Regions from separate parts of the Homo sapiens genome. Here region 2 is linked to region 1. Evidence: fine-mapped expression QTL. Tissue or cell type: regulatory T cells. Region 1 holds a variant in brackets; the other region holds the start of a gene. All regions are shown on one strand. Distances are between the middles of the regions.

The links. PIP is the estimated chance that this variant, and not a neighbour inherited with it, causes the effect.
Region 2: it holds the start of KLHL2, and the variant in region 1 is fine-mapped to the expression of KLHL2 in regulatory T cells (Schmiedel 2018, PIP 0.95).

The regions. Positions count from the first base shown.
Region 1 is chr4:165,258,885-165,261,648 of GRCh38, reverse strand. All of the region lies in intron 4 of KLHL2 (kelch like family member 2), which reads right to left. Among named protein-coding and RNA genes, the nearest start is that of GK3, 19 kb to the left of the region's middle. The variant A/T (reference allele first, on the strand shown) is at 1,603.
Region 2 is chr4:165,206,413-165,209,176 of GRCh38, reverse strand. KLHL2 (kelch like family member 2) reads right to left here and starts at 1,616. Exons shown (of 15, transcript NM_007246.4): 1 at 1,275-1,616. The coding sequence starts at 1,300. RefSeq lists a silencer at 1,315-1,964 and an enhancer at 1,495-1,995.

The DNA.
Region 1 (2,764 bases):
AAGAAAAATAGGTCAGGCGTGGTGGCTCACGCCTGTAATCCCAGCACTTTAGGAGGCCGAGGCAGGTGGATCACTTGAGGTCAGGAGTTTGAGACCACCTGGCCAACATGGTGAAAGCCCAATCTACTCAAAATACAAAAATTAGCTGGGTGTAGTGGCACACACCTGTAGTCTCAGCTACTCAGGAGGCTGAGGAAGGAGCATCACTTGAACCCTGGAGGCAGAGGTTGCAATGAGCCGAGATCACACCACCGCACTCCAGCCTGGGTGACAGAGAGAGACTCCGTCTCAAAAAATAAAAATAAAAATAGAAAATAAAGTATAAATAACGTTACAGCCAAACTTTTTGCATGATATGTATAGTAGGTTTCATTATGTTATGAGAATGAATATCCACAGAAGGCTTTAATTTGTTGATAATTTTCAAATTGCAGGTTTTTCCATGCCAGTGTAATTGCGCTCTGAAGCAACATAAAGTGCGTTCCAAGATGCTTAATAGTACAGCCATTTAATTCAGCAAATTAAATTTCTACATATAGTTTAGAAAGTGGTCTTCAGTGTAAAATTCAATCTCTGTGAAATCTGCACAAATAGTATGATCACTCCTCTAATTAGCATTTTCCTAGAGAAAACAGTATAATACTTAAATTGTTTGGTCACACAGAACGATGAGGAAAAAGTGGTTGGGCAGGAAACAGGCTCACTTACACATTGTTGGTGGGAGCACATATTGGTCCAACCTCCATGAAGAACAATTTGTTTATTTCAAATTCAAAATTACAAATGCACATGTCCTCTGACCCAGCAATTTAACCTATAGATATGCTAACATATGCACAAAATCTCACATGCACAAGATATTCATTACAGCATTATTGTGGCTAATAGAAGTTAGAAAAAAGCCTTTAATGTCCATCATAAGGAGACTGATCAAATAATTGGAATCATCCATTCAATTGCAGTCATTCAAACGAAAGAGGAAACTAATAAATGAGATAATTTCTAAAATATATTCCTGAGTGAAAAAAAAATTAGTCGTTGGTATATTATGCTAACATATACACCCCCCCCACACACACACATATATGTGTGTGTAGCAGGCTTTTAAAATTTCATTTTGCTTTATTGATTTCAACTTAATCATTACCAAGTTCAGATCTACCGTATTAGGAGACCGAAATTCATAAAATTGTAGATTCTCCTATCTGGAAGGGGCATAACAAGTCATCTAGGTAGAAATATAAAGTTATTTCAACAGTGGTCCATGTGGCTAGATTATATTCACATATAATTTTTTTTGATGACAGTGAAACGTGGTTACATGCTTGACAAATATATGCTAAACATAAAATAAATGTAAGTCAAATGTACAAAAAGTTTGTTCATATTTTTCTTTTGTCAGTAAATCTTTTGAAATTGCCTTGGTTTTATGATGTAGTTTTACTAGGACTAAACTTCAATAGCTCATAATTATGTAATTAATTATATACAGCTTCAAAAGCAATTACTAATTGACCCAGCTTGCTAACATGACGCCTGGTGACCATCAGTCACTGATAATGAAAACAGGAAAACAGCTGGGGCCACATCAACTCCTAGCTT[A/T]TTTTGGGTGCCAAACAGCCACTTAAAACAAAATTTAAAATGCTCTGACTTCAGATGAACCACATCCCATGATCAAAACCACTCAAACAGCTGTCACCCTGCAAGCTGAAAGTTTTGAGATCAAATCAAATCAAACCTTCTAATTTGTGTGATGAAGAAACCACACCCTCGAGGGGTTAAACGGCTTGACCAAGTCATACAGCGAGTCATGGAAAGCTAGGGATATAATCAAATTGGTCAGCTCTTTGGTCTACTGTTCTAATACCTTCAACCCCAAATTTAGGTGCAGAATGGAAGTATTTGTATAATTTCTAAATCTCCAACACTGTCCTTTTCATGAAGAATAATAAAGACAACAACCACTTCAACAATGCATTATTGCAGTTACTTCCATTTACTGAGTAATTACTACATCAGGCACTGTGCTAAGCACTTGCCAGACAATAATATCTCATTATCTCCATCATACACAAGCGAATACAGAGGGTAGGAGAAGTTGGGTAACTTGCTAAAGGTCACACACCTGGTATGGGACAGGCCAAGCCTGCTATGAGAGCGGTACTAACCAAAATGTGCATAATGATTTTAGATGACATACAGATAAACTTCTTGCATTAATAGTTAAGAATATAGGTTCAGGGCAGGCTTGGTGGCTCACACCTGTAATCCCAGCACTTTGGGAGGCTAAGGTGGGCAGAGCATTTGAGGTCAGGAGTAGGAGTTCAAGACCAGCCTGGCCAACATAGCAAAACCTCGTTTCTACTAAAAATACAAAAATTAGCTGGGCATGGTGGTGCACACCTGTAATCCCAGCTACTTGAGAGGCTGAGGAAGGAGAATTGCTTGAACCCAGGAGGCGGAGGTTGCAGTGAGCCAAGATCGGACCACTGTACTCCAGCCTGGGTGACACAGTGAGACTCCATCTCAAAGAAAAAAAAAAAAGAATATAGGTTCATAGTTAGAAATACATTTTTTTAAGTTATTTTCCATTTATTTCAATAATACAATAATATAAACATTCCTTCTCAAGTAAACTTATTTAAGCAAAAATTGACTCACTGTAGAGAAAAACATTAAAAATTTAATAGCATCAGCACTTGTAGAATATAGCAAAATCCTGAAGCTGGCCCACAAATGATTACAAGTGATCAGAATTTGGAAA
Region 2 (2,764 bases), 52 kb after region 1:
TCTCAGAGCCCTCAAAGCCACAGCTATCGAGAGGTGACTAAGCCCCTGCTTCTGTCAGCCCAGGAAGGCCAATTCAAGAGTCTTATCTACCCCCTAGATTTCCACGACCTGTTCCACTCAAGCTAAAAATTCTGAAACGCACTTTTAGAAACTGTCGTTCCAGAATCCCATTAGCTCTCCTAAAAGGGCTGAACATCAAAAAATTATTCAACCCAAGCCAAGTATCCTTATTTTGGCTGGAATTCTGCCAAATAACCACAAGAGACTGGTGCGGTACAATCGGCATGGAGTGAAGCTTGCCAAATTTGACCGGAGAACGACAAGCCTCCATGAATAAGCTCTCATGAAAAGGTAAACCATTCTTCAGGATGAGGTTTGTCTGCGATTTGAAAAGTCAGATTCAAAGGACTCTTGTTCCTTCCTAAGAGAAGAGGGAACCAAAATTGAAATTTTCGAAACTCCTGGGTATTTACAGTTCACTTTTACCAAGATGTTTTTAAAACTAAAAACTAAAATTTAAAAAAAAAACCCTTGTTCTGAATAATGCAATAATGTCTTCTACATAATGTTTCAGCTATTATTTCTAGAAAGTAATTCTGTTGCCAGTGATCTTGAATGTACTTGGGTACCAAAGAAAAAAGACACCTGTGCCTGGCAGGTCGATACGCTACTAATTTGCCCGAGGTACGAACGAAACAGAAGATGCTGATTTCTGGATAAAACGTTCTGCAGTGCCAGGTAAAAGAGGTCACATGCCCTGAACGGCCGCCGCTCATTTAGAGTGATGCAAAAGCTCCTCAGATATTAATTTTGTTAGAAATTCGGGGAATCAAGCAACCTAAGATCAATTCATTTAGACAGCGGGTGACTGGTACTTTCCAGTTTCCTTTTTTCAACGGACTCAGTGCATCCTAGCCTGATCTCTTATAAAGGGGTAGGCAAACTCGGCACCAGGTGCCCATGCATTTCAGGGAGGTACACACAGGACCTGCAGGGTCACCCATGCACAGCCCCACCCCGAATCTTCTATCCGCCCGAGATGGGGAAGACCCTTCCCCAGAAATCCTGGGCAGCGTTTTAAGTCACCGCCTGGCCAGGCTGAGTTTCCGTCCGCGTCCGCTCAGGACTGCGGGCACAGCGCCTCGTCACGCCCCGCATCTCCCACCTCCCGCCGGCCCCGGCGGCTGTCCCCAGAGCTGCGCCCGCGGCCGGCGACACGCGCCGCAGCGGCGCGCTTATCCGCAGCGGCGCAGCCCGCCCGCCCGCTCACTCACGCGGGAGGCAGCGGCGGCGTCTCCATTGTGGCTCCTCTCGGGCTTCAGAACGCAGGCACCGACCAACACAGCCAGCACCATTCCAGCCGCGGACGCCGGCACTGCCCGCCCGCCGAGCCGCGTTCCATCCGCCCCGGAGGGGGCGCCGCGCTCTCCTCACCGCGCGCCACCACCTGCGGCGGCGGCCCCCGCGGCCATGGCCCGCTCGGCCGGGCGCGCTCCGTCTACTGCGCGGCTCCCGCGCTCGCCCGAGTGCGGGGCGGCGGCGACGGGACCGGCGGGCGCGCGGGCTCGGCCACTTCCGGGTTCGGCCCCGGCCGGCGCCGACGCTGTGACGGGACTGCGATGCGGCCTCCCGCGGCGGCCGAGTACCCCTCCCTCGGCGCCTCCCCTTCCTCCTGCTGCTGCTGCTGCCGCTGCCGCTGCCGCTTCTGCTTCTGGAGGCGGGCGGGCGGGCGCCAGCCGGGTGCGGGGCGGGCGTGCCCAGACGCTGGCCCGCAGGCCGGGACGCGGGCGGCGGCCGCCCACAGCGGGTCTCTGGATCGCCGGGACGGGGGCGCTGGAAAATGGGAGCGGAGGGGGTTCTCCGTGCAGAAAAAGGGCGGCCGAACGCACGGCGTAATAATGCTCGGTATCCACTTGCTGCTCTGCTTCGCGGGCGTGTACACGTTATTCTTTTCATTTGTGCCTGTACCCAGGGAGATGGGAAGGGTAGGCATAACCAACCAGTGTCCTTACAAAGGGTGGCACTGAGGCAAGAAGAAGTGATTTGCCTGTCCAGTGTCCCAGGCAGGAAGCAGGCTCTCCCTCCTCAGTATGCTAGCCATTCCTTGGACAAGTGAAGTGAGCACCTGCTAAGCAAGGTTTTAGTGCTGCGGCTGTGACAGCAAAACCAAGTCTTTCTGCTTGTGGAGCTGTCCATCTAGACGGGGTGACGGAAACAGTAAGTGATGCTTACCATGAAGAAACATAAATGAGGATGAGGAGAGGGAAAGAGATTTTAGAAAGAGTGGTCAGAGAAGGCCTCTCAAAAGGCATGAGTTAAAGAGATGGAATAACAGGGGCTTTGAGTAATGCAAAGAATGCCTAGGGCAGAGGGAAGAGCAGCGTGGAGACTGCTAAGCAAGATCCTGCCTGCCTTGTTGAGGAACGGGAAGGAGAACAGTGCAGCTGGTGGTTCTCCAAGTATGCCCGCTGGAAGCAGTAGCACCTGCGAACTTGTTAGAGATGCGAATTTTCCAGTCCCACTTTAGCCCTACTGAACCAGAAACTCTGGGGGTGGGGCCCAGCAGCGTGTGCTTTAACAAGCTTTCCAGATGATGCTTGCTGGGGCCGCGAGGGTGGGAGACCCTCTAATGAAGCAGAGTGAGGTCAGGAGGACGGCGGCAGGAATGGGTGTGGCGAGGAGTAATCACAGATCACCCAGGCCTTGCAGGCCGTGATAAAGGACTTGGCTTTTACTGAGATTAGAAGCAATTAGAAAGTGGTGA